Linked DNA regions of Homo sapiens. The protein of the gene in region 2 purifies or fractionates together with the protein of the main gene of each other region. This does not show direct contact. Each region holds a gene or a part of one and is shown on either strand. Other genes may lie near its edges. The genes, in order: ANKRD28, PXK, CTR9, UTP25, ANKRD44 and YBX3.

Region 1 (4,899 bases), about 43 Mb from region 2:
CACAATGCAATGGACTAAAAGCATTTCCTTCCGTTTTCTGGAAAACTTCCTGTTCTAAAAGCAGTTCTACACATGTCTCGTGACCTAAATAGGTGTAAAGAACCAGGTATTAAAATTCAAAGGAGATACTGGCAAAAATCACAGGTACATGTAAGTGTTTAAAGGAAAAATGTAAAAGTCTCTCCCTCATCCCATCTCCCAGATCCCCTCTCTGGAATATAACCATTGGTAGCTGTTAAGCCACCAGTAGTTCCTGAAAATTTCTAGGCATATACAACTGCACGCACAAAATACATACAGTTGGCTCTCTGTATCCGTGGGTTCTGCATCCATCAATTCAACCAACCCCAAATTAAAAATATTTGGGGGAAAAAAAAAACAGAGCAGACTTTTTTTCTTGTCATATACCCTAAATACAGCATACCAATTATTTACATAACATTTACATTACATTGGTTATTATAAGTAATCCAGAGATGATTTAAAGTATAGCAGAGAATGTGCATAGGTTATATGCAAATACTATCCCATTTTCTATAAGGGACTTGAGCGCCTGTTGGTTTTGGTATTCACAAGGGGTCCTGGAAACCAATCCTCAACAGCAAACGAGAAATGACTGTGCTATTTTTTTATTTTTTTCTTAATGGCAATGGGATGTTTAATTCCGCAACTTGCCTTTTACTTAATATTAACTACACATATCCTTCCATAATAGCATATATGAAATATTATTATTATTATTTTAGATGGAGTCTCACTCTGTTGCCCAGCCTGGAGTGCAGTGGCGCGATCTTGGCTCACTGCAACCTCTGCCTCCTGGGTTCAAGTGATTCTCCTGTCTCAGCCTCCCAAGTAGCTGGACTACAGGCGCCCACCACCATGCCCAGCTAGCTTTTTTCGTATTTTTAGTAGACACGGGGTTTCACCATGTTGGTCAGGCTGATCTCAAACTCCTGATCTCAGGTGATCCACCTGCCTCAGTCTCCCAAAGTGCTGGGATTACAGGTGTGAGCCACCATGCCCGGCTAAAATCTTATTCTTTAATGTTCTGAAGAGCTTCACAGTATCAAAGTATATCATAAATTATTTAATCTAATTATGGATTTTAAAGTGATTGCTAGTTTAAAAAAATTCTTCATGATATTATCAACAACGCTGTAATGAAACATTCTGGTATTTTTTTATTTTATTAAAACAATTTTTTGAGACAGGGTCTTGCTCTGTTGCCCAAGTTGAAGTGCAGTGGCATGATCATGACTCTCTGCAGTCTCAACCTCCTGGGCTCAAGTGATCCTCCCACCTCAGCCTCCTGAGTTGCTAAGACAACAGGTGCAAGGCTACCACACCTGGCTAATTTTTTGATATTTTGTAGAGATGAAGTTTTGCCATGTTGCTCAGGCTGGTCTTGAATCCCAGAGCTCAAGTGATCTGCCTGCCTCAGCCTCCTAAAATGCTGGGATTACAGGCATAAGCCACCACGGCCAACATTTTGTTTTTATTTTAGGAAGTATTTTTGTAGGACAATTTCCTACCAAAGTGATATTGCTGTGGTAAAGGAGAAGTATCCAGCCTTGGTATTCTTGGGGGATTGGGTCCAGGACTCCCCACTGACAGCAAAACTCCATAGTCCCTTATACAGGTCCCTTGTACAAAATGGTTTATTTGTGTATAACCTATGCACATCTTCTCATATACTTTAAGTCATCTCTAGATTACTTACAACTTAATTCAATGTAAATGCTATATAAATAGTTGTTGTATTGTTTAGGGAATAATGACAAAAAAAAAGTCTGTACATGTTCAGCCTAACTATATTTCTGATGGACATTCAGTTGAATTCACCGATGGGGGACCCATGGATATGGAGGGCTGACTGTATTGACTGTTCATCAATATCTGGTCCATAGTTTTTAACAGTAACTTCAAAAACAGAAAAATCCAAATTTCAAATTTTCTTACCCTAATTCCAGAGCCAGGGTTTTAATTTAATACCCTAATTACTACAAATAAAATGTTGCTTATTTTATTTCATTAGTCATTTGGGATCTACTTTAGGAATAAGATTCTTACATGGCCTCTTTATACATTTTCATGGTTTAATATTTGCCTACCAAAGTGATGTTATATTTTCTTTTCTTTTTAAATTACTCAAACTTAATCAGCTTAAACTTTACCCTATAATTGTGGAAAAGTAATTTTTAGAAAAACCTGTAATTGTGTTCCATCTTTTGTCAGTTCTTTTCTCTAATCTAGTAGTTTTCAAGTGGATTTTGCCCATCAGCAGATATTGTATGTGGCAATGCCTACAGACATTTTTGTTTATCACAACTGAAGGTGGGGCAGTGCAACTGGCATCTAGTGGGTAGAAACCAATGATGCTGCTAAACATCTTGCAATGCACTGGAGAGTCCCTTGCAACAATCATCTGGCCCAAAACGTCATAGTGCTGAGGTTGAGAAACTCCTTTAATGCCATCGTTCTGAATGTTAACTCATTACTAAGATACAGCAATGGAAAGTTGTCCATTGTTGACTTAAGAGCCCCTCATTCTCCAGGTATATGGGTTCTTAAGGTGTGGCCTAGGGAACCCTGGGGTGACGCAAAAAAAATATGAATAAAAACACAGATGAGAACCCAACTATTCTCTTAAATTAGCTATGAAGAGATGTACTACTCTTCTCACTAAAAAGAAAATACTTTTGGAAAATAGTTTTCATAAAAAAAGATTATTTATGTTAACATGTAATAGACATTATTTTTAAATAAATCAGTAAGTATTTAAAAATTTCTCAATTACAATTTCTAATACAGTCAGTATCAATCCATAGTTCCTGAGACCAAAGGGTTTGAGAACCACTCACCATCTGAGTACAGACTGAGAAAAGGGAACAGTGGGGCCCCTTTGTGACCTCCAGAAATCATTACTGGGTGATATCAAGCAGACAATCTCATAACTTTCTATCATCATTTATGAAAGATAGATAGGATGGTAAACTGGGTCCTCCTGAGTTTCAGAGGCTAGTCTGAGGATGTTTAGAGCTTCATAAAAATGAACACATTTTTTAAAGGAATAATAAGTATTCTTAAGTTCTGTGATTGAATGACTATATAAACTGAAATTGTGAACTTTTAGTATCTACAGCCAGTGTTTTTCTAAAACTTGGCCATCATTTCATTTTAATTTTAAGAGGTTGTTTTCTGTTCTGTTGGCATGCTTCCACTTTTCTTTCCAGCTGTACAATAATTACTAGTTAAAGTAAAAACCATTTTACATATTCTACTTTCAGAATGCCAAATTATAAAACGGGCTTTTGGCTATAAATATGGTATTAATTTTAGGCTGTCTATATAGTCGCTTATTGCATATAGCCAACACACATTAAATTCCTTCCAGCTCAAATTCAGCATCACCACAATTTTGCTACAGGCTGAAAATCAGACACATTTGTTATGATCTTTAAATGGCAACCAGGCATGCAGTTCTTGCAAAATTCTGTCTCTTGCACAAAACGTGCTTAGAGTCTAAATTTAGCAGTGATAGAGTAGGAACTCACTTTAGGGAAAATGTTCTACATATAGATCTGATAACAAACACTGTAATAGAAAGCAACTCTCCAAAGGACAGTTACAGCAGTACATTTACAACTAAATGCTCTTCCTGAGGAAAAATATCTCACTGTGTGATTTTTCCAATGGTTAATCTTCAGGGATATATTTTTTTAAAAACCAAGCAGTAAGTCTTTGCTTCTGAACAGTTTTATCTCACTGACTTTTTTACAGAAACACAACTCACAATTGTAGATATTTTCCCACTATATTAGATATTTTGGGTTTTCCTTATACTTGTAAAATGTCAAGTCACATTACAGAAACAAATCAAACATCAATGGCAAAATACAGTATCTTCTTTGTTCTAGTATGAGTACTAGTCTCTGGCCACTTCACTACACTCATTTCTACTTGCCTTAGCGAGTAGAAATGGGAAAAAGAGAAGTTAAACCCCAAAGGTTTTATAGTTTTCAAAACTGTTTTGGTTAAGGATTTAAGGTAGTAAAAAACAAAGAGACTAAACTAGCTTGTTCAATGAGCAACAGATTTAACTATTCAAGTTTTTATGGTGCTATCAGTACTCAGCTGAAGGATAACCAACAGTATAACAGGACAAACCTCAAGAACCCAAAATGTTCTAACGGCAAAAGAATACAACTCCCAACTTTGGCATAAGGACTAATATGAAAATCAAAATATTGTATCTCAGAAATACTTGTGGAAACATTTAATGAAGTTATAATTTTACAAGATTCAGCTTTTTCCTCTTTTGCTTTAACTTGATAACTTTGTCAGAACAGCTCCCAGTGAAAGAACTATGAAACAGCATATTATAGAAAGATAGGAAATCTCAACTTCCTGGTAAGGCAGTCTGATTTTACAACAGATATTATACTTATTTATTTTTAGCAAATGGGTATTTATATAAAGAGACAACTTATATTTTCTCTGCATTTTGAGGGAAGGTTATTAGAATTGTGAACTACAGCTTTGTAGATCTGCTGTCATAATTAACATTAATCTTGAAGCTACACTGAAATTGAAAACAAATTTTAAAAACCTCTAATTTCTCTACTAAAGCCTGAAGCTTGAACTTTGACAACACTGATGCTTGCACTGTATATAATGTACTTGAGTTTTCTAAGATGATCAAATCTAAAAATATCTCAACATGCTTCATTGCATAAATTATTTTAATTAGTGGCATTTCATAAGCCAAACTGCATTTTTAACATCTATAACTTCAAAGTAGCTTTATGCTTCCCTACGTGACCTTTTATGAGTCTACCTATAAAAGCGATGACTGTGACTGTGAGCCTGTAGGAGGCCAAAGAAAATCTCTTTTAACCA
Region 2 (4,899 bases):
GTCATTAAATGGGCACCATTAACCTAGAACTTTCTTCACATGTACTCAAGAACTCATAGAGGGACTGCAGAGAGACAGCAGGCTTACCTTTCGAGCTAAAATCTTTCTTTTTTTTCTTTCCTCCTCAGATCCATGGTGGGACTGAGCTCTTGTCAGTCTTCGATGCTGGTGAATCTTTAAAAGACCATAAGATGTAAGCATATCCCACATAAGGCAGCTTCCTAATGAAAATCTTCTCCAACATGTTTTGGCAAACCACATTTTATTGGGATAAAAGAAAATCTTTCCTTGCTCAGGCTGTCTACTTCCTGGCTCGGGTCTGGATGCCAGGTAGAGGAGTATGCCAAAGGAAGAGGTCCTTTCTCATGCCCCTAATGCCTTCCTGCCTTTCCCTCTTTTACAGAAGAAGAATGTGGTGAGACAGCATGGACCATGCATGCCCGCAACTATCACCGGCCGGCATGCTCTGATCAGAAACCCAGACTGCCCTTCCTGGACATGTTTGTTTCCCACATAGACTAGGCAGGACTGAGGGCAGGACTGTCAAGTATTCAGCTCTGCAGGGAAGCATTTAGCCTAAAGGCTGGCTGAGAGTAAGTATGCTTAAAATATTTGCAGAGGGAACAGTCAAAGGTCAATCACTATAAAAACCACGGCAGAGGATGGGGACACTAAAAGGCAAAGAGGAACCGTTATCAATTTACCTGTTTCTGTTCCTCAATTAGTCTCTTCTCTATACATTCTTTGGCAATTCTCAATGCCTCTTTTAACTTTGTAGGGATCTGAAAGGAGAGAAAAGTACATCATCTATTGAAAAAGGTGGCTGGAGATACTTCCAAGTCCTGGAGTAAATGAAGGAGCAGGTGGTTATCAAGAGTCATTTCGGCCGGGCGCGGTGGCTCATGCCTGTAATCCCAGGACTTTGAGAGGCCAAGGCGGGCGGATCACGCGGTCAGGAGATGGAGACCATCCTGGCTAACACGGTGAAATCCCATCTCTACTAAAAATACAAAAAATTAGCCGGGCGTGGTGGTGGGCGCCTGTAGTCCCAGCTACTCAGGAGGCTGAGGCAGGAGAATGGCGTGAACCCGGGAGGCGGAGCTTGCAGAGAGCCGAGATCACGCCACTGCACTCCAGCCTGGGTGACAGAGCGAGACTCCATCTCAAAAAAAAAAAAAAAGAGTCATTTGGAATAAAATCAGTTAAAGCTGTCCATTCAAATCCTACCCCAGCCACTTTTGGTATCCCTAACACACTCACTTCTCTAGCATTTTTTAGCAATGAACACATAAAACTAAAACATAAATAAACATGATATGTTTCAAGTAATGCAAGTAATCCTCAAGGGCTGTAAATTGCCAAAACAATCTGAAAAAGAAAAATAAAGTTGAAGGCCTCACATTTCCTGATTTTGAAACCTATTACATAGCTACAGTAATTAAAACAGTGTGGTACTGACATGCAGGCAGATACACAGACCAATGGAAAAGAAGAAGAGAGAGCCCAGAAATAAATGCTTGTGGATATGGTCAAATAATCTTTGACAAGGGTTCCAAGAACATACAATGGGGGAAAGGACAGTGTATTCAATAACAGTGCTGGGAAAATTGGATATCCACATACAAAAGAGTGAAGTTGGACCCTTACCTTACACCATAAACAAAAATTAACTCAAAATGGATTCAAAACCTAAACATAAGACCTAAAACTATAAAACTCCTAAAAGAAAAGACACAGGGGAAAAGCTTCTTGACACTGGATTTGGCAGTGATTTCTTGGATATGACACCAAAAGCACAGGCAATAAAAGAAAAAAAATTAAACTTCATCAAAATTTAAAACTTTGGTGCAGCCGGGCAAGGTGGCTCACGCCTGTAATCCCAATACTTTGGGAGGCTGAGGTGGGTGGATCACTTGAGGTCAGAAGTTCAAGACCAGCCTGGCCAACATGGCAAAACCCCGTCTCTACTAAAGATACAAAAATTAGCCAGGTGTGGTGGTGCACGCCTGTAATCTACTTGGGAGGCTGAGGCAGGAAGATCACTTGAACCTGGGAGGGCGGAGGTTGCAGTGAGCTGAGATTGTGCTGCTGCACTCCAGCCTAAGCAACAGAACGAGCCCCTGTCTCCAAAAGAAAAAAAGAAAAATAAATAAATAAATAAATAAATAAAACATTGGTGCAACAAAGAAAAACGGAGTAAAAGACAACTCAAGAAATGGGACACAATATTTGCAAATCATAGGTCTGATAAGGGGTTAATATCCAGAATATATAAAGGAACTCCAACAACTCAACAACAAAATATAAGTAACCCAATTAAAAAGAGGCAAAAGACATAGACATTTCTCTAAAGAAAATATACAAATGGCCAAAAAACATATGAAAAGACACTCAATGTCTTTAGTCATTAGAGAAATGTAAATCAAAACCACAATGAGACATCACCTCACAGCCATTAGGATAGCCACTATTAAAATAATAAAATAAATGTTGGTGAGAATGTGGAGAAACTGAAGCCCTTGTACACTGCTGGTGGAAATGTAGAGTAGTACAGCTGCTATGGAAAACAGTATGGAGGTGACTCAAAAAACTACAAAATGGAACTACCATATGAGGAATTCCACTTCTGGGTATACATCCAAAAGAATCAAAAGCAGGATCTCAAAAAGATATTTGCACACCCATGTTCACTGCAGCATTATTCATGACAGACAAGAGGTAAAAGCAGCCTAAATGTTCATCAACAGATGAATGGATAAAAAAAGTGTGGCATATACATACAATGGAATATTACTCAACCTTAAAAATAGAAGGAAATCTTGTTACATGTTACAATATAGATGAACCTTGAGGACATTATGCTAAGTGAAATAAATGATCCACAAAAGGACAAATACTTATATAAGGTTTCTAGAGTAGTCAAGATCACAGAAACAAAGTAGAATAGTGATTGCCCGGAGCTGTGGGGAGGGAGAAATGGGGAGTCATTATTCTATGGGTATAGAGTTTCAGGTTGTAAGCTCTAGAGACCTGTTATACAATAATGTGAAGATAGTTAACACCACTGAACTGTACACTTAAAAATGGTTCAGAGAGTAAATTTTATATTGTATTTTTTATCACAATTAAAAATTTAAAAATTAGGTCAGGCACAGTGGCTCACACCTGTAATCCCAGCACTTTGGGAGGCCACTTGGGGCCAAGAGTTCAAGACTAGCCTGGGCAACAGTAAGACTCTGTCTCTACAAAAAAATTAAAAAATTAGCAGGGTGTGGTGGTACGCGCCTGTTGTCCCAGCTACTCAACAGGCTGAGGCAGGAGGATTACCTGAGCTCAGGAGTTTGAGGCTGCACTGAGCCCCGTCATTGCACCACTGCACTCCAGCCTGGCAACAAAAAATCGCCTACTTCAAAAAAAAAAAAATTAAAATTAAAAATTAAAAAAATTGGCCGGGTGCAGTGGCTCACACCTGTAATCCCAGCACTTTGGGAGGCCGAGGTGAGTGGTTCACCTGAGGTCGAGACCAGCCTGACCAACATAATGAAACCCCATCTCTACTAAAAATACAAAAATTAGCCAGGCGTGGTGGCGCATGCTTGTAATCCCAGCTGCTCAGGAGGCTGAAGCAGAATTGCTTGAACCCAGGAGGCGGAGGTTGCAGTGAGCCGAGATCATGCCATTGTACTCCAGCCTGGGTGACAAGAGCGAGACTCCGTCTCAAAAGAAAAAAAAATATTTAAAAAATTATATAAAGCTTATTGGAACATACATAAATTCAACCAGTTATTATAACTTCAGAGATATCTTCTTTGTGAGAGATTTATGTTCTGAATTTTGTAAGATTAAACTTTCCCAGCTTTCCCTGTTGGGAGACATTCCAAACAACAGCCCAGTTTGTTTCTGAGCCTATCATTTCTTTTTTTTTTTTGAGACAGAATCTCACTCTGTTCCCCAGGCTGGAGTGTACCGGCATGATCTCAGCTCACTGCAACCTCTGCCTCCATCATTTCTCCTTTTTTTTTTTTTTGAGACAGAGTCTCACTCTGTCGCCCAGGCTGGAGTGCAGTGGTGTGCTCTCAGTTCACTGCAACCTCTGCCTCCCAGGTCTAAGCAATTCTCCTGCTTCAGCCTCCCGAGTAGCTGGGATTACAGGCACCTGCCACTAAGCCTGGCTAATTTCTGTATTTTTAGTAGAGATGGGGTTTTGCCATGTTGGCCAGGCTGGTCTGGAACTCCTGACCTCAAATGATCCACCTGTCTCAGCCTCCCAAAGTGTTGGGATTACAAGCGTGAGCCACCACGCCCGGGCCATTTCTTAATTTATTAGCTTTTTAAATCATGAGGAGTCTGGTCCTGGAAGATAAGACCCCCAGATCATGTTGAACTTTTTGTCTTTATTATTCTGTAAAAATTTCAAATTAAAAAAAAAGCTGTAAGTAGGTAATACAGTCACATGGTTTAAAATCCCAAAGGTATAAAAGGGCACATACACAGTGAAGTCTCCCACCTACTTCCATGGAGGAAACCAACATTACCAGTCTCCTGTATATCTTTCCAGAAAGTCAGTGTACATACAAGAACTAATGTTGGATTTTAAAATCATACTATCTTTGCTGCATAGGCTCTCTGGCTTAGGGGAAGAGCGAGGTCTAGTACTAACTCCTGAATCCTAAAGGCCAGACTGTCAGGGTTGGAGGAGAATATATTTATTGACAAGGCTGAAGAAATTTGCTAAGATGCTTCAGTGAAGAAGACATTAAATTTAAATGTTTTTTTCTCTCCTACTTCAGATCCAAAGAAGCTATTATTGTCAGAATTCCTCTAACTGGCAAAACAGAACAGAGGAAAGCACCTCTCTCACTGACACAGTCTTCTAAACCCTCCCTTGGTTTTCTTTCT
Region 3 (4,899 bases), on a different chromosome or scaffold from region 2:
GAGACCAAGCCTCCTTGTCACACACATTTTTTTTAAAACCAGATGGTAATTTAGATGTATATATAATATATATTATATATATATATATTTTTAAGTACATATGCCCTCCTTAACAGCACTTAAACAAAAATTAGAATATTGGAGGATTAGCATGGCACCTGTAGTAGAATAAATTAATGACACATTGTGGGATATAGATTTTTACAGGGAAAAGAATGTAGGCTTTGGGGTTAGATCAAGTCCCGGCATGGCTGCTAACTAGCTATGTGACCTTAGACAAATGATCTAACTTCTGAGCATATGTCCTCATTTAAAATATAGAGATGTTAGCATCTACCTCATAGAGTGGTTGTACAGATTAGAGAATATGTGTATGAAATTCCTTTCATGGTATGTGACCAATAGTCAGTGGTTAATAAGTGGTGGATATTCCACATAGAGACAGAGTCTCTCTATTTTGCCCAGGCTAGACTCAAACTCCTGGGCTCAAGCCATCCTGCCACTACAGCATCCCAAGTAGTAGATTACAGGTACATACCACCACACCTAGTGGATATTTCTTTTATTATTTATAAGTCAAACAGATGCCTAGAGAAGTTGTTAAACAGGCCCAAATCACAGATAATTTTTGGTAGATCTAGAACCAGAACCCAAGTTTTCTATTTAGAATTCTTCATATCTTTCACTATTGTTTTCTCTCTTAGGCTCTACTTATCTGAAAATTTTAGTTAGAAATCAACTAGATAAGCAGCAGATTGGGAACATTGTGAATGATTCCAGTTTTTTAAACAGTTTTATTAAAGTCTAATGGATTTATAATAAACTGCACATATTTGACATTTACCATTTGATAAGTTTTATCATCTGTATATACCTGTGAAACCATCACCACAATCAAGATTAATGAATACATTCATCACCTTCTGAAAGTGTCCTCTGTACCACTCCCCACAAGTCCCCCACCCCACCCCTAATCCCTGTGCCAGACAACCACTGGTCTGCTTTTTGACACTAGAGATTGTTTTACATTTTCTAGAGTTTTATATAAATGGAATCACACAATATGTACTCTTTTTTTGGTCTGATTTCTTTCATTCAGCATAATTATTTTGAGATTTATCCATGTTGTAGCATGTATCAGTAGTTCATTCCTTTTCATTGTAGGATAGTATCCATTTTATGGATACACCACAGCTTGTTTATCCATTCACCTGTTAATCAACATTTTGATTGTTTCCAGTTTTTTGTTATTACAAATAAAGCTGCTGTAAACATTTGTGTACAACTTTTTATATGGACATATGCTTTAGTGATTCTAATTTGTTTCATTACCTTATAGCTGGAATACTACAAGCAAGGAAAAACAGAAGAGTTTGTAAAATTGTTGGAAGCAGCACGTATAGATGGCAATTTGGACTATAGAGACCATGAAAAAGACCAGATGACTTGCTTGGATACATTGGCAGCGTATTATGTACAACAGGCTCGGAAAGAAAAGAATAAGGACAATAAAAAGGATCTTATTACACAGGCCACCTTGTTGTATACAATGGCCGATAAAATTATTATGTATGATCAGGTAAAAATAAAGTCAAATTTCTTTCCATTTATGAAGGGAGAAAAGCACATGAAAGCAAAATGTGTGTGATAGCAGATTTTTTGAAAGAGTTTTTCTTCAAGTAACATGGTTGATAGAGTCAAAAAGAAGAAAGGTTCCTCATTAAAATCGGAATGCTTTGGTTTTTGTACTGTTTAAGTAATATGGACAAATGTAGTACATAAAACTTGCTCCAGTAATTTTATTATCTCCAGGTGAATTTCAAGGATATTTTAAGGAATTTAAATTTTTCTTTTGGTTGTTGTTATTGGCACAGAAGACTTACATTTCAGGATAATTTCTTATTTTGTAATTAAGAATTGCTTGTTAGTAGCTTAAGCACGTTACATTTGATAGGGGAATTTGCACTGTGCTCCACCTCCTTCCTATTTGGTTTTCACTTTAGTGTTACATGTTCATGGTATATAGGGGTAAAATCTAAGATAATACATTACTTCATAGAACCATTTGTTGGGAAGAGCCTGCTTCTGCCTACTTGAGGGTGACAAAATGGATCAAGCTGATGCACAGTTTCATTTTGTACTCAATCAGTCTCCAAATAATATTCCAGCCCTTCTTGGTAAGTGGTCTTTGGCAACATGTTAGGAAACAGTTGTTTTCAGCATATGCCTAGAATATATCTCTTGGTAATAGCTCCTTAATAACTCAGCTAGACAGCAAAGTAGAAGAGCTTTATGTTGTTACAAATGAAATTACCTACAACAAATATTGTTGAAATTGTAGAAATAAAATATATACCAGTTAAGAATAATTTATTATTTAGGCCAGGCATGGTATAATCTCAGCACTTTGAGACCCTGTCTCGTTATACCTGTAATCCCAGCGCTTTGAGAGACTGAGGCAGGAGGATCACTTGAGGCCAGGAGTTCAAGACGAGCTGGGGCAACATAGCAAGACCCCATCTCTACAAAAAATAATTTTTTCAAAAAAGAGTAATTGGTTATACACTTCTGAAGAGCCAATAAACAATCTCTACTTAGACAACTTAAAGTTATTTCAATTATTACTTTATAACATTTTTTAAACTTTTATTGAAGTTCAGTGGTACAAGTGCAGGTTTGTTACATAGGTAAACTTGGTCATGGGGGTTTGTTGTGCAGGTTATTTCATCACTTAGGTATTAAGCCTAGTACCTATTAGTTATTTTTCCTGATCCTCTTCCTCCTCCCACCCTCCACCCTCCAAAAGGCCCCAGTATGTGATGTTCCCCTCTGTGTCCATGTGTTCTCATCATTTAGCTCCCACTTATAAGTGAGAACAGGCAGTATTCAGTTTTCTGTTCCTATGTTAGTTTGCTAACTTTATAACATTTAACATAAAAATAGGAAGTTTTATTTTTAGACATAAATTAGTATACTTTTATGAAAAACAAATTTTTAATATGAAATTTTGTTCTGTGTTTTCAAGTATTTCTCACTCAGAGATGTATTTAACTTAGATAAGTTAGTGTAAAACATAATAGACTTGTAGCCTTTAATCAGACACTGTGTTTATTTTTAAAAATCATTACAGGTAAAGCTTGCATTTCCTTCAACAAGAAGGATTACAGAGGAGCTCTTGCTTACTATAAGAAAGCATTGCGTACTAACCCAGGATGTCCAGGTAAGAGAAAAATTTTATTTTATGTCTAAACTGTGTATTACCCAGCTTAAAGCATTGAGGATTTGTCAGTTGCTTATGAAGTTATGAAAAGATATTGTTGGATTATAGAAATGTCAGAATCAAGTTTTTTTTTTGATGCTATGTTTGAGTCAAAAGCTGGATAGTAAGGCCAGGTGCAATGGCTCATGCCAATAATCCCAGCACTTTGGTAGGCAGAGGCAGGACTACTTGAGCCCAGGAGTTTGAGACCAGCCTGGGCAACGTAGTAAGACCCTGTCTCTACAAAAAATAAAAAAGTTACATGAGCATGGTGGCACACACCTGTGGTCCCAGCTCCTTAGGAGGCTCAGGCTGGAGGATCGCTTGAGTCTGGGAGGTTGAGGCTGCAGTGAGCCATCATTGTGCCATTGCATTCCAGCCTGGGCAACAGAACAAGACCTTGTCTCAAGGGGAAAAAAAAATAGATAGGGTCTGGCTGCACTGGTTCACACCTGTAATCTCAGCACTTTGGGAGGGTGAGGTAGAAGGATTGCTTGAGCCCAGGAATTTGAGACTAGCCTTTGCAACAAAGGGAGACCCCCATCTCTACAGAAAATCAGCCGCACATGGTAGTGCTTGTGGTCGCACCTACACAAGAGGCTAGGCAGGAAGATCACTTGAGCCTAGGCATTTGAGGCTGCAGTGAGCCATGTTCATGCCACGGCACTCCAGCCTGGGCAACAGAGCCAAGACCCTGTCTCAAGAAAAAAAAAGTCTGGATAGTAGATTATAATATAATCTTTTTGCCCTATACTATTTTTCTTTCCAAAATGTCATTCATGTAGCAAATTTTTACTGAGTACCAACTATGTGGCAGGCAGTGTTCTAAACCCTGAGAATGTAGCAATTAACCAAAGAGACAAAAGTTCCTGCCCTCATGGAGTCCAGTTTTCAGTGGGCAAGATAAATAGTAAAGTATGTATGATGTGTAAGCTACCAGTAAGAGCCAAGGAGAAGAATAAAGCAGAAAAAGGGTATGAGAAGCATCAGGAATTGCTTAGAAAGGATGACCAAGGAAACTCATCAGAGATAGTGACATTTGTGTGAAGACCTAAAAAACAACTAGCAGCCATGCAGATATATAGGAGAAGACCACTCCTAGAGAGAGAGCATAGAAGGTACAAAGGTCCAGAGGAAAGAGAGTGCCTGGTAAGTTTAAGGAAGAGTAAGGAGGCCATTGTTTCTGGAATAGAGAGAGAAAGAGTTGGGGGGAAAGTAGTAAGAAATGGGGTCAAAGCTATAACCAGGGACTGACTAATCACGTAGGGCATCACAGATTATTGTAAGGACTTTAGTTTTTACATCGACAGAGATGGGAAGCCATTGGAGGGCCTTGGGCAGCAGAGTGACGTGATCTGACCTATATTTAAAAGGTTCGTTTGAGCTTTGGGGTTGAGACTAGAGTGGGGCTCAAGGGGAGGGGGTCAAGGACAGAAGTAGGGAGAGCAGGGAGAAGGCATCTGCAGACAGGCAGGTCAGAGGTGATTGTGGCTCACACTAGGGAGGTAATAGTGGAGTTGGTACAAGTGGTCAGATTCTACATGTATTTTGAAAGGAGAGCTGATGGAGTACCTATGATGTATAAGACAGAGAGGAAGAGTCAAAGATAACTCCCTTGCACAAGCAATTGGAAAAGTAGA
Region 4 (4,446 bases), on a different chromosome or scaffold from region 2:
CTAAGGGATTGTAAATACACCAATCAGCACTCTGTATCTAGCTCAAGGTTTGTGAACACACCAATCAGCACCCTGTGTCTACCTCAGGGTTTGTGGATGCACTAATGGGCACTCTGTATCTAGCTAATCTGATGGGGACTTGGAGACTCTTTATGTCTAGCTAAGGGATTGTGAATACACCAATCAGCACTCCGTATCTAGCTAATCTAGTGGGGACTTGGAGAACTTCTGTGTCTAGCTTAGGGATTGTAAACGCACCAATCAACACCCTGTCAAAACGGACCAATCAGCTCTTTGTAAAACAGACCAATCGGCTCTCTGTAAAATGGACCAATCAGCAGGATGTGGGTGGGGCCAGATAAGAGAATAAAAGCAGGCTGCTGGAGCCAGCAGTGGCATCTCCTCGTACTCTGTCCTGGTGTGGAATCTTTGTTCTTCACTTCTTTGGGTGCATGCTGCTTTTGTGAGCTGTAACACCGCGAAGGTCTGCAGCTTCACTCTTGAAGCCAGTGAGACCAGGAACCCACCAGAAGGAAGAAAGTCCAAACGCATCCGAACTTCAGAAGGAACAGACTCTAGACACGCAGCCTTTAAGACCTGTGACACTCACGGCGAGGGTCCGCGGCTTTATTCTTGAAGTTAGTGAGACCAAGAACCTACCAATTCCGGACACACTGGATTTACAGGTGTGAGCCATCCCTTAGTCCTTTTAAGAGTTCAACAATTAGGATTGCTTCATTAAAAAGGGTAATAATAACTACTATTTATTGAGTGCTTTTATTGTTTTGTTTTTAGAGAAGTAATTATCTAGTAAAAACAGTGTAGGTTTTCAGGATTGTGCTGCCTGTGTGGAAATCGGGAAAAATAAGGATGCTTACCTTAAACGGGTGTGAGGGATTAACTGATGTAATACATGCAAAGAGCTTGGAAGAGTTGCTGGCGCTTAATCAGTACTCCAAAAAATGTTACCTTCAAAACCACCTTTTAATGCAAAAGCATATATATACATACACACACATTGTTGGTTATTATTCATGCAGAAAACAATCTGGGAGGAAACATAAGACATTAATAATGATCACCAAATAGATGTAGTTTGATTTTTGTTTTTCACTATTTCACTTGTATTTGTGGAATGGGCATGGGTTGCTTTTTTAATAAGATTAAAAGAATAACTTTTCAGGAAAAAAAAAAGTTTAAGGAAGTAAGGATGATTGGCCTGGAGAAGCAAGTTTCATAGGAGACATGGTAGATGTATTCCAATAGTTGAGCCTTAAGTGGGGAAAAAAAAAATTTGTACCGTACAGCTTCAGAAACAGGACTGATGGATAAAAGTTTCACAGTGTTTCTAACAATCAGAGATGATTAGAAAAGCCACAATGAGCACCCCATCCTTGAAGGAATTCAAGCAGAAGCTGGAGGCCACCTCTTAGGGATGACCTATAGGTAATTCACGGATCAAGTGGCAGATTAGATCACAAGACCTGTAAGTTTCTATCGAATTGGGGATTCTGACTTATTTCCTATTTGACCTAATTTAGCTTTGACATACACTAGAAGAGATGAGAAACAGGTGGTCATCAGCCTTCAGAGAGCTGAAGTCTGTTCTCTTGCTAATTATTTTTCTGCAACGATCACTGTTTCTATAAATCTTATGAGAAGACACTTGTGTTCCCTCGTTCTATGGATCCAGTGTGGAATGGACACGTCAGAACTGCTAGCAGAGACATGTGAGTGCCCACTCCTCACGCCACCAAATGGCCAGCATCAACCCTGAAGTACAGTCTCAATGTTGGTGCTTGCCAAGAACAGACGAAAGAATAGGCAGTGTCTTTGGAGTTCAGGAGTCTGTGATGCCATTTTTGTCTTCTGTATCAGTCAGGAATGGCTAATAGAGGCCTGGCCTAATGGCTTAAACAAATTAGGTGTTTGTGTGTTCACGTAACAGTAGTGCACAGGAATACCATGCAGGACTGGTATGGCAGCTCTACAACATCCTTGCAGAACCAAGCTCCTTTCTTCACCACTCTCCTACGTACAGAGCTTATAGCCTCAGGAGCTTCAGCCATCACTTCTGCGTTCCAGGCAGGAAAAAGGGAAGAGCAGAAGGTAAAAGTGGTGCTCCTCTGAGTTTTAAAGAACTCCCCTAGAAGTCCTGCTCAGTAGTTAGTGCTTCTGTCTCATGGGCCACATTTTACTGCAAGGGGTGGGGGATGGAAAATGATGCAGTGTTTTTACTAGGTACTTTGTTATCTCATTAAAGTCCAGCGTTCTGGAACTAGGGAAGTAGGTGGATATAGGGCAAACAATAGCAGTCTCTTCCCTTCTCACACAGTCCCTCTATAAGGCTAGTGGGGATTACTCCATACTTCATAAAGATGAGAAAACTGAGAAGTGGTCGTGAGGACTTGTTTAGAGCCACAGAATGTCAGTGGTGATGTTGGTCCCAACACCCAGCTTTGAAAAAATGAGAGAACACAAAGAAACCCATGAACATCTGTGGACAAACACCAGCTGTGAGCCCAGGGCCACCTCTCCTTGCGGAATCAAAACTGGCAGATGAGAGAGGCTGCAGAGGTCAGTGAGGACGAAGGTGGCAGGGCACTGGGGCAGATGTTTCAGTGATGGTGCTCCATGCTCTGTGTCATTCCTTAGGTTGGCAAAAGGTAGACAGCTTTGGCCTTGGCTCAGCTGGGAGAACAGATGGGCAGGAATTCAGCACAACTCCTAAATCAGCCAAGCGGCAGACTGCCTCCTTTCCTTCTCTGGGTCAGCCAAGGCTACAGTTTCCACCTGGTCACAGCCAGCTGCAGAGGCCCAAGACTGAAGCCCATGACAGCTCGGCGAGGAGCACCTAGAAATGTGCCATCCCACACCTGACTGTGAGGGGCCATCAGGAGAACAAGCAAGGGCAGGTGTTTCTTCCAGCAGTGAGGGGACATCTGTACTGAGCTGCCCAGCAGGAGAAAGATTAGATTTCTCTGTGCAAAGCAAACAGCTCCTTATGGCAGTCACATACCTGTCCTCACTCCTTTTGAGCATAGGGCTATACTGAGAAAACCAGTTTGTTTGAAAAAGGCCTGGAGCTCTGTTCTTTCTCATCCCCTTTATCTACCATAGGAATAATGGCAACGTGACCAGAGGTGTAAGGGGAGCCTAGGACCTACTCTGAAATACATGTAATGCAAGTGGAGGCGGCAACTCCCCACATCTGAGGAGGGGAAGGTCCTCACAGAAGGGAAACAGGAACAAAGCAAAAGTAGACAGGAACATGTGTTTAGCTTTAGACACAGGACATAAAATGCAGTTTTGCTGCAGTTCTGGTGAGAGCACGTGGCATAGGAGGAAGACGGCTGAACGTCGCGGGGTTTGCTTGGGAGGAAATGACCAAGCCCAGAGGGAAAGAAGCGTTCCCTCTTTCCCCTTCCAATGCTTACATCAATTTTGGATTATCTGTGTATTTACTCCCCATTCATTGACTCTAATTAAAAGTTGACTGAAATCTGTTTAGAATTCTATGTAGCCAGGCTTTCAGAAAAGCTTTTTAAAATAAGTGTGGAGTAGAAATTTGGTAATGAAGATCACTACCATGCTCCTTTGAGAGAAAAGATGGGAAAGGGACTGGAAGGAGAGGATGGCTAGACGGAGGGAGGGCTAGCTGTGGTGGCCCCACGCTCCTCAGAAGCCGTGCCCTGAAAAGAGCCACTTCTGAGCATTCCACTGACATTACTTTTCCACGAAGCTTTGGGCACCTCAGGCCCCTGCAGTTGGACAATGAGGCTCTTCAGACAACTATAAAGAACTTCCAACTCTTGCTCCCTCACCCCAGGCCTTCTGTAATCTTGAGACCCTAGATCTGCTCACGTGGGCTTGGGAAGGCTGGTCAGATGGCCAATAGGGTCTGGCCCCACCTGCCTTTCCCTTTCCTCCTTCAGCAGCATAGCTCCTTGCCCTCACGAGGGCACAATCAGGGCTGAGAGCCTTCATGAGCCCCCCTTGGTCCTCTGGGGTATGAGGAGTCAGCAGGGACACATTCCCCATCTCCACTAGGACCATCTGTGCTCAATTATAAGCCCTTTGGAAGCAAGCAGAGGGCTGTTTAGCTGCTGCTGGTTCTCTATGATTAGCTTGTTCTTGTTTTTTGAACACTGCACGTGGTGCAGCCAGCTGTGAGAAGCATCCACGATTCAAAGCTTTTTCTCTCTCAAAAAGAAAAGTGCTAAGCTGGTTGTTTTAACTATGGGAAAAGAAAAAACATTTAAAAGTGTTACTTTCTGGGTAAGTTCCTTTCCATACCTTTTAATTCCACTGTTTCCAGGATTGGGACCATCCTTTGTCTATATTTCAGACCCTATATAGGCACTTGCTTGCTGCAAATGAGCCTTGTTAACATCAAGGTAGTGTGTAATTCCAGCTCACGCATCCGTATTTCAGTAGCCTCTCTTC
Region 5 (4,899 bases), on a different chromosome or scaffold from region 2:
CTACCTGTTCCCATTTTGACAGACAAAGAAACGAAGGCCAGGACTTACCCCAAACCATACAACAGTTAGAAGAACCATGAGTAGAATCCACGTCTTCTGATTCCCAATCTAGTGTTATTTTTAAAACAAACTAAAGCAAAACAAAATTTTTTAAATAAAAAAAGCAAAACTTTTAGAGACAGGTTAGAATTGTAATTAATTTCCATGTCTAGGCTCAAACAGATGTTTCCACAAGTCTCCCTAATTTTACTAAAAGCTCTGAAAGCTTTCTTAGGGGAAAATGGTCTTCTGGTATAAAAGATATCCTAGAAAGCTATGCTTGGATGCTTAAGACTCCCCAGGATGGGAGCAAGGGGACTCTAAGCAAACAAAAACCAAGAAATGCAAACAATTATCGACTTAGTAATCCCTGAAACAGCCCAAAGTGGACTATATATTTATTTGCTTAGCTCACTTTATAGAATATAAATTTTAAGTTTTCAAAAGAGGAGGCAAGTGAAAAGATCCTTAAAAATTATGAATATCATAATTACAAGCTGGATTCATGAATCATTAATTTCAACCTCTTAGGCTACCAACATATTTACAAACATAAACACTGATAAGGGCAAATACCTGCATTCCCGACCTCTGAAAGCAGCCAAAGCCAAATAATATATTGGTTAAAAGGTTAAAAAGGAGTAATCTATAAAGAGGGCAATCTTAGGCCAGGTGTGGTGGCTTACCCCTGTAATCCCAGCACTTTGGGAGGCTGAGGCAGGCAGATCACATGAGGCCAGGAGTTTGAGACCAGCCTGGCCGACATGGTGAAACCTCATCTCTACTAAAAATACAAAAATTAGCTGGGCGTAGTGGTGCAAGCCTGTAATCCCAGCTACCCGGGAGTCTGAGGCTCAAGAATCACTTGAACCCCAGGAGGGGGTCGGCGGGGGTTGCAATGAGCCAAGATTGCACCACTATACTCCAGCCTGGGAAACAGAGCGAGACTCTGTCCCAAAAAAATAAAAATACAGAATAAATAAAATGGGTAATCTTAGATTATCTATGAATTGAAGTAGGGTGGAGAATAGGAATTAGTCCTAAGTCATTGACATGGGTTAAAATCCTTCTCTGGAACTTGAAGCTGTTTGACTTTGTTACCTGGAAAGCCTTATTAGAGCTCATCTGCAAATACACCCTTCATAGGCACATTTGTAAGAAATGCTATAACACAAACCATGTGAAGAGCATCGGTCTCCATTACAGGCACCAAGTCACAGAAGGGAGAGGGCAGAGCTGAGGCACCATAAAGGCATCCAGTCCAACCTCTTCATTTTACAAAGAGAAACCTGAAGCCTACAGAGGTTAACATGTCTTGCCAAGGGTTGGCTAATGTACAACATATGTCACTTCTCCCTTCCCGTGTACCCATAGCAAACACTGGTAATCAATCACACTTTCTCGGATCCTTGACTGCAAGAGTCAGAATGTTTCTATCACATTACACCTGCAAGTCCTGGACCGATCAGAACTCATGTGTGACATGGAAGCTGTTTCCCAACTCTGCACAAGGTCATAAAACAATCTTTGTAATACCTGCACCACTGTAGACCTGACTCAAAAGAGACAGAGTAGTCTGCTAGTCAAACTAGTTTACTGTCACTGTCAAGCCTGTGGTGAGCAAACATGGAGTCTATGTGAATATATGATGACCACATATCCAGGTTTACCCAGGACAGTCCTGGCTCACGTCTATTTGTGGCTTCATATTGAGTAGTATCACCTATGATTCTCAAACGGATAAAAATGATATAGTCATCCTAGTTCTGTGTAGTTCCTAATCATTCACAAACATTTATAAATGTTGTTTCATACATGATGTGTCAGGAAAAAAAACAAAAACAACAACAAAAAACACTTAACCAATCACCAGGAGTTTTCTCATACAAAGGGGCTTTCAAATAATACTAAACCCAACCAGTTTTCAAGAGGGACTCAGGGACCACTGTCCAAGCCAATCTTTTTTATATATTGAGCTTCAATATGAAATTTCTTCGGGGGAAAAAAGGAGTGTCATAGCTTAAACAAATTTGGAAATCACAAAATTATCAGATCTCTGTAGCTCTGCCTGTTTTTAAATTATTTCGTGCTATACTTTAGCCTATAAAAATTCACATTATCTTGTAGAAATACAAATCTTTTTAAAGAATCTTTCATTTCTGTTTCTGGTACAAACAATTTGTGCCTTTTTGAGTTCGTATTTGCTCTCTGTTTACAGCAAAAGAGGAAGTAAAAAGTTGAAATCTTAAAAAAGAAAGAAAGAAAGAAAAGAAAAAGAAAAAAGTTAGTTCCATTAATCCAGAGCTAGAGCTTATGTGCTGGCGTTGGCTAAAGAGCCAATCATATATGTAAGAGAAGAATAAGTTTATTTGGAAAAGTCATTGGTGTAGAGAACACAGATATCAGCTATGTGCACAAGTGAAAGGTAATGATATTATCACACGAAAAGTTTAAAAATTTTAACTGGCTACCCAGACAGAAGACTAGAAGGAAACATATCAAAATGTCAAGAATAGTTATCTCTTGAGTATACAGGCTTCAGATGGTTTTAAAATTTTTTGGTTTGCTCATCTAGCTTTCTGCTTTTCCTATAATGACCGCAGTTCGTTTTATATATATATATATATATATATATGAAAAAAATCACTGAACTACCAACACATCATTCACCGGGGTGAGGAAATGGAGAGGCTAATGGGAAAAGCCAGGTATAAGCCAGGCAGGGGCAGAGGCCTCAGAGCAGCTCCTTACTATGTACAGAAATGGGTCTGGCCCAAGAGGCAGAAGGAGTTCAGGGAACGCTGTTCATCCAATGGCTTCTCTGTAAACAAGATCAGACACCCATTAATCCCATGGCTGCACTGCCCTTTCAACTATGAAAAGTATAGCCTTGTGGTCAGAGCCCCACCTGTGCAATCAGACTGCCAGGGTAGGACAGTGTGCTAGATCACTTACTGGGCGTATGACCCTAAACCGGTCAATTAGCCTCTCTATTCCTGTTTTCTCATCCATAAAATAGAAATCACACCACCACCTACCTCCTAGTGTGGCTATGAGGATTAAGACATGATTCACTGCAAAGGCCCAGTATACAATAAGAGCACAATAAATGTGTGACATTATTAGGTCTCTGCCATGAAACACCAGCCTCAAGTGCACTCTCAAAACCATGTGATTGGGTCCTGAAACAACCAGAAAAGGTTCTAAATAAAGCCTTTCTTTTCCCTTCTTCTATGCTGAAGACAGGACTACAGCATACTGTTTGCTTTAACACCAGTGCTCTAGGGAGCCATGGAAGAACAAGGGCAGCCCAGTAAAATATGTAACACGTCCCAAGGCCCCACACTATGGGCTAGAAATCCTGCTCCCAAAGTTACACAGGATTTCTAGTCTCTTGCCACTGCCACCGCTGCCAGCCACTGCCTTTGGCAAGAAGGTAGGTGACTCAAGTGTGAACTAGGACTTGGCAAGGGAACACCAAACCAGAAGGCCTCCAGGCAGGAAGCTCCAAAAAGGCCACCTGCTGAAACAGTTTGTCTGCAGGCAGCCTCCGAGATGAAAGTAGTGTTCTGCCATCATTAACAAATGCAGGTAAGAATAGTGGACACTTTAAACATGCAACAGAACTTACCATCCTAGCTTCATAACTCTGAAAATAAATTTCGGGTAGAGATCCAGGCTGAAGATACGACCACACACTTAAAATGACTACAGTGCCTTTAACTATATGACATAAAGAACACCCTAAAACAGTCAATATCAAATCAATTTTCAAAAAGGTTTCATGGCTATCTTTGAGTCAAATGCCTTAGATCTGTATTTAACAAAATTTTCTTTCCCAAACTTAAAATTATCTCACTTTACCAAAAAATATAAAACTCCTAATGTCCACATACAAGGAACTAATTACATTATTATATTAATGACATAGTTGAGGATGTTCTATGTTACACAGGGTAACCAGTTCCTCCCAGTTTGCCTGGAATTTTCCCGGTTTTAGCCCCATATGCTGGGACACCAGTCAATCTGCACAAACCAGGATGGTTAGTGCCCCCTAAGGCTGCAATAAAAATTATGTGTGCCCTGTGAAGAGGAAAACAGAAGGGACACTGTTACAAAAGTTACAAATGCAGAAGTGCTAAATGCCAAGTTTGTTTGTTTGTAGTGATAGCTCCCAGTTCCTTTTTTACAGTGAAAAAAAAAAAAAAAAGACTAAAAATTACACTGGTCTCTCCCTTTTTCTTTTTACTCTCCTGAAAAAAAAAGAGTTAGGAAAAAACATTTTCCTTCTCTTACAAGATTGAGAGGTCACTACAGGACTGACTGCTGAAGTAGTGTCTGCTTCACCTAGCAAGCTCCTGCACCCAGCTTTAGCTGGAGAGAAAATGTCATCATCTGTCACCCCTGACTTTTGCCACATTTAAAGACAAATCCAGACAATTTGTGTTTCAGGTTATCAACAGTAAAAAATCCAAGAGGCCTAGCAAAAATCAAGATTCACTTCACAAATAGGGCATTCAACAGATGAGGTGCCAGGCACAGTGGCTCATGCCTGTAATCCCAGCACTTTGGGAGGCTGAGGCAGGTGGACTGTTTGAGCCCAAGAGTTTGAGACCAGCCTGGGCAACATGGCGAAACTCTGTGTCTACAAAAAATACAAAAATTAGCCAGGTGTGGTGGCACACGCGCCCATAGTCCCAGCTACTGGGGAGGCTGAAGTGGGAGGATGTTTGAGCCTGGCAGGCCAAGGCTGTAGTGAGCCATGATCATACTATCGAGTCAGAGTGAGACCCTGACACACACACACACACACACAAAAAAAAAAAAGGAGGGAGAAATTAAGAAGTGGTTGTTTTACTA
Region 6 (4,899 bases), on a different chromosome or scaffold from region 2:
ATTTTAATCAAGATTATTCCTTCAACAATGCTAGATATTAAAAACAGTTCCAGTCTTTATATTTTCCCAGGTAATTAATTTTTTGGGCAAATGAAAAGAGGCACTAAACGCATATTATTTGGAATATTGCCTGACTTAAATGCATATAATGTATCAAAAACAGGCCTCTACTGTGTACATTTGCATCGAAAACATCAACTGTTTTTTTCTCCTTTGCCTTGCTGCTCCAATCAGAGTGGCCTCAAACGTAAGATGGCCTGGGTTTGATCTCTCCTTTGGAGAGATGAGAGATCTTTGGAATTAAAGCTGGAGAATGCCTCATCAGTGTAGACTGCATAACTTTGGAGATATAAAGACATGTTTTTTTTGTTTTGGATTTTCTTTCCCCCAACAAAGAGAGCTAAAGTATTTTCCCAAGTGTATCAGTCTAGCAAACTTCAGAACTACCCCTGCCTACAACAGAGCAAGTCTTAATTACTATTTTAGTTTTGAATTTAAAAGTGAAGCCTTATTGTTTATCCTTGGAAATTATAAACTTTGTATCTTATGAAAAGACAGTATGGATTGATGTTAATAATTACTTTCATTCTCTACTGAGGCTTTTTTCTTTATTTTTTCTTTAAGGTAATCTATTATCAGGTTTCCTGTTTCATTGAGTCTTTATAATTGCTTTTTGCACTTCCTGAATTGAGACAGGGGCATTTCCTAGAAGTACTGAATTTGTCATTCATAATTGATTCCAAAGATCATATTTGAAATAGTTGAGATAAATATAAACCTACAAAATACAAGTTACATGAAGTTTTATTTTGTTTAGATTCCTTCTCTCAATTCTGCTAAAATCAGGCATTGTAGAGAAGTGGTCCTGCTCATGAGGTAGAGACAACCATTATGGTAAAGAGGGGGATTTTATGGAAAAATGCTTAAGTTTGATTCGCAAAACTGTAGAGAGCAAGGTAAACAAAGAAACAAGCCCAAATTCATCATGTGATTTGAAAAGACCTGTTATATCACGTCTCAGAGTGGTAAGTACAGAACTGGATTGAGACAGCAGCAGTTCTATAATTATTCTTGACTCCTCTGATGAGCTCCCACTTGGCGACTGGACAAGTTGCTTTACGTCTTTGTAGATTGCCTGTTAACAAGGAGCCACCTTGTTTCTCATTAAAGTTTGCCTAATATTTCCAAGTATGAAAGTGATGTGTTAAGGTCTTTCACTCTTTTATTGTAGCTCCTATTTTGAACTTATAAAATTTGTCTAGGTTAAAACTTGGAACATTCATCTTGAACATTCTTTTTTTCCTTCAGTGTTTCTCAATTTTAATGATTACAGAATTGTATAGACTTATAACCACTCCTTATCTTGCGAGTTTCCTGAAAAGTTGAATAAGGAAGAAAGGTTTAGTCTTCTGAAAAGTATTTCCTTATGAGATCTTGGCTTGCTCCATTTTCTTTTTCTAAAGTATTTTGGAATTAAGCTTTTAATGGTTTCTTTAGGTATGTTTAGGCTTTGTCTAATGTTATCAAGATCTTAGTGATATGAGCTATATCTCTCTGTAGGTCAGATACTAATTTATCTGCTTAATCCTATTTTAGCCACCAAAGTCCTTGGCACTGTCAAATGGTTCAACGTCAGAAATGGATATGGATTTATAAATCGGTATGTGTGTGTGTATATTTGCATGTTTTAAGTTTATACTTACATTGTGGCACCAGGAGTTATAAATCCCTTAGCCTTCATTAATGGCTTATATAAATTTTTTAGGTTTCTAAGCACTGTAAATATTCTCATTTCTAAGCTACTGGTTGTTAAATATTACTTAAAATACATTTCCAGGACACTAATAAATAACTTATTTCATAAAATCTAGTCATTAAGGAAGAAAAGGAGGGGGAGATAAAATCAGAAATGGGAAGGGCCTTAGGATAAATGAGACCATATCCATAATTTCACAGATGGAGAAACGGAGTCTTACACTGGTTAAGCAGCTTTCCTAAGGTCACCCAACTAGTGAGTCATTGAGCTGGATCTTTAACTCACTTCTGGTCCAGTCCTATGTAGAAACTGTAAACTGTGGTAACTTTTAACCGTACAGGAATGAGAACATAACTACAAGATGCTGGGAGTATTATGAGGTTTTCACATGATATCGGCATTTTCTTTGCTTTCCCACCCCTTCTTAAAGTCCTCCAATTTCTTGTCTCCTTTGGTGGGGTGGGGGTGGGGGGCTGTTTTAAGTTTCAGTGTAAGGAGAGCCTAGTTCACAGCTGTGCCCTGTCCTTTTAACTGTCTTGCTTTGCTTTTGCTGGGAGGAAAATCTGAGGCTCTGATTACACACCATGTGATTCAGAAAGAGACAGAGGAACGGGATGTTTCTGTATGTTGAGTCTGTGAGCTTGGATCTAAGCACTGTGGCAATGTGGAGGAGGAAGGTGGGTGGCCTGTGGAGTTAGAAATGTTTAACAAGGATTTTAGGTGTCTGAATTGAGTGTAGAAAATAAGTGAAAATATATGTTGTGTTTTGAGGACTTGGGAGTTAAATTCATAACACATAGGTTCTTTTAAGTTTTTCCACATACGTACTACCTTTAATTGTGAGCTTTTTGTCTTTCAACAGAAATGACACCAAAGAAGATGTATTTGTACATCAGGTAAGAGGGATTATAAATACTACATTTGCTATGTGAGGAGAGGGTGTGTAATCTTCTGTCAGCCCTTTCCCAAAAGTAAGTCCTATGGATTATTATTTTAATCTAAACTCTTTCTGTGATTTATTTTGCAACAGGAGTTCAGTTCCACATTTTAAGATTGGCAAATAAGTTCTTCTACCCCATCATATTAACTGTTTTCAAATAGTTTTATTTTTGCAGTTGTATAAAGTGATATTTGGTTAGACCACTTTCTAATTTTTAAAGCCTTTGAGTCCTTAGCAAAAAAAAGAAAAGTCTGTTTCCCTTTTAGCATCCTGTTCTCCTGATGTGGTTCCTCCTTAGTGTTTGCCTGGAGCCAATCTGGCTTCTGCCTGGGTAGGTATTGGTTAAAGCTCCTCTGTCAGAGCAGCTCTCAATTGAAGTAAATAGCGCAGAGAAGCAGATAGTAAGATGAGAAAACTTCCAGTTCCCAGGGTAGCCCTCACTCTTGTTAAATGAGGCATGTTAGGACGTGTCCAGGTCAAAAGCTGCAAATTCCCTTAGATTTGCAGGAAATAGAGGAAATGGGTAAGATATGGAGCTTCTCTGCTATAGGTGCCTCAGTTTTTCTTTGCTTTATTAGCCTAGGATGTTATTTATTCTGTTATTAATATGTCCTAGACTTCCTTTATAAAATAGGTTAAGAGAAGGAATACTATCCTTAGTGTTCTTTTTGTTTATTTAGTTTTCAGTGAATTGTCTGAAATATGCGTTCTCAGAGTATAACAATAAGGAAGATAGAGCAGCAGGTACTAATGCCAGCCCATTCTCTTGCAGTGCAGAAATCCAGAATACATCTGATTTTCTGTGTTTTTGTTTCCTTCTGTTTAGGTTTGTGTGTGTATTGGAGTGACCGTAGGAGTTGGAGATAGTGGTATCTAGCTGTGGTTTCTATTGTTTATATTTCTACTTGACTGGATATATCTCAGTTGCATTTAGATAATTTGAGTAGATTTATTTTGTTCAGATACAGTGACTTTTAGGGTCATAATAGTGTTGTTTATAATACTTGGAGGTTTGAGGTTAATAGACCTTTTAGGGTAAGAATTCTGAAGACTGCTAGAGTCAAGGTCCTCAGAAGTTGCTGTATTGGTGGCTGGCTTTATTAGCCTGTGAGTATATGACCCGATTCCAGCCCCCGTGAGGTTGTGTGGTGAGTCACCTCAATGTGTTGAGGCTTGCCCAGTTTAACAGGAAAAAGGGAGCGAGCCGGCAGGGAGGGGCTGTTTTTGGAATGGCTGAATGTTCATGCTGCGTGCCTGTCCTGAACTGCCTTTTTTCCTCTATGGGTGAGGTCTCTGCTCTGTTGGCTCACTATTTCTTTTCCCTCCTACTCAGAGTTAGGGGACGGGCTGGATTACACATGCTTAATCGCTTTATAAAATAAGGTTGACCTAGTTCCATAGAAACGCAAGCCCCTTTAACTGTTTAGAGATACCAGCCAAAGAAATGGAAATGCATGGCAGGAATTATTTTCTGCCTTCATTGATGGAACAAGAGAGAGCAGCACCTATTCATAAGCAGATATTTAGGTGTAGATGTTTAATGAAGAATAGCATCTTCACTAACCTTTTAATGTATTATCAGGGAATGTAGGATTTGTTGACATGAATTGTGTGATGGGAGAAAAGTTGAATAAATATCATATAGGTAGAGTACAGGGATATGAATTCCCCCTCCTCCACTTCCCCCATCATCCCTGGGGCTGTTACGGTTGTGACTTCAGATAAATCACTTTAACTGTTAGCCTCGTGTTAACTCATCTGCAAAATGGGAGGAGAGGGGGGAGGCCAGATTATTACTAATACGTTCTGATTCTTGAGATAATTTTGTTTACTCGTCAGAAATATTTATCCCCTTGGCATTTTAATTTGTTTTTCTTTATCACTGCCTCCTTTCCTCCTCCGGAGATTCAGAGAATCTCTGAAGCTTAATGGTTTGAGGTAATTAATACATCTGATATGATCAGGTGATCAGCCTGTAACAGTAGTGTGTAGTCACTGCACACACTGCAGTTATAGAAAAAACATGTTCTGTTTAATCCACCTGTCAAGATGAATAGCACAAATCAAGGAAGTAATGTGGAATATAGTTTTATAGTGCTTTCTTGTTGTTGTGTTGGAGATCCAACTTAGTGGGAGAATGGTGGAAAAATAAGAATCGGTCAACAGTTTCTTCAAGTTCACTCTGGTGTACTTGAAAGCAGTG

The links.
Region 1: the proteins of PXK (region 2) and ANKRD28 purify together in Homo sapiens (affinity purification with mass spectrometry; one large-scale study listed by BioGRID and IntAct). This does not show direct contact.
Region 3: the proteins of PXK (region 2) and CTR9 purify together in Homo sapiens (affinity purification with mass spectrometry; one large-scale study listed by BioGRID and IntAct). This does not show direct contact.
Region 4: the proteins of PXK (region 2) and UTP25 purify together in Homo sapiens (affinity purification with mass spectrometry; one large-scale study listed by BioGRID and IntAct). This does not show direct contact.
Region 5: the proteins of PXK (region 2) and ANKRD44 purify together in Homo sapiens (affinity purification with mass spectrometry; one large-scale study listed by BioGRID and IntAct). This does not show direct contact.
Region 6: the proteins of PXK (region 2) and YBX3 purify together in Homo sapiens (affinity purification with mass spectrometry; one large-scale study listed by BioGRID and IntAct). This does not show direct contact.

What each region holds. Positions count from the first base shown.
Region 1 is NC_000003.12:15,679,480-15,684,378, forward strand, and holds part of ANKRD28 (serine/threonine-protein phosphatase 6 regulatory ankyrin repeat subunit A), read right to left. Parts: intron 85-4,899; coding exon 1-84. UniProt on the Homo sapiens protein: Regulatory subunit of protein phosphatase 6 (PP6) that may be involved in the recognition of phosphoprotein substrates. Involved in the PP6-mediated dephosphorylation of NFKBIE opposing its degradation in response to TNF-alpha.
Region 2 is NC_000003.12:58,404,807-58,409,705, reverse strand, and holds part of PXK (PX domain-containing protein kinase-like protein), read right to left. Parts: intron 783-4,899; coding exon 705-782; intron 175-704; coding exon 88-174; intron 1-87. UniProt on the Homo sapiens protein: Binds to and modulates brain Na,K-ATPase subunits ATP1B1 and ATP1B3 and may thereby participate in the regulation of electrical excitability and synaptic transmission. May not display kinase activity.
Region 3 is NC_000011.10:10,753,619-10,758,517, forward strand, and holds part of CTR9 (RNA polymerase-associated protein CTR9 homolog), read left to right. Parts: intron 1-1,339; coding exon 1,340-1,579; intron 1,580-2,059; coding exon 2,060-2,177; intron 2,178-3,130; coding exon 3,131-3,220; intron 3,221-4,899. UniProt on the Homo sapiens protein: Component of the PAF1 complex (PAF1C) which has multiple functions during transcription by RNA polymerase II and is implicated in regulation of development and maintenance of embryonic stem cell pluripotency.
Region 4 is NC_000001.11:209,854,085-209,858,530, reverse strand, and holds the end of UTP25 (U3 small nucleolar RNA-associated protein 25 homolog), read right to left. Parts: 3' UTR 966-4,446; downstream 1-965. UniProt on the Homo sapiens protein: Component of the ribosomal small subunit processome for the biogenesis of ribosomes, functions in pre-ribosomal RNA (pre-rRNA) processing. Essential for embryonic development in part through the regulation of p53 pathway.
Region 5 is NC_000002.12:197,303,319-197,308,217, forward strand, and holds part of ANKRD44 (serine/threonine-protein phosphatase 6 regulatory ankyrin repeat subunit B), read right to left. Parts: intron 1-4,899. UniProt on the Homo sapiens protein: Putative regulatory subunit of protein phosphatase 6 (PP6) that may be involved in the recognition of phosphoprotein substrates.
Region 6 is NC_000012.12:10,715,841-10,720,739, reverse strand, and holds part of YBX3 (Y-box-binding protein 3), read left to right. Parts: intron 1-1,596; coding exon 1,597-1,660; intron 1,661-2,618; coding exon 2,619-2,652; intron 2,653-4,899. UniProt on the Homo sapiens protein: Binds to the GM-CSF promoter. Seems to act as a repressor. Also binds to full-length mRNA and to short RNA sequences containing the consensus site 5'-UCCAUCA-3'. May have a role in translation repression.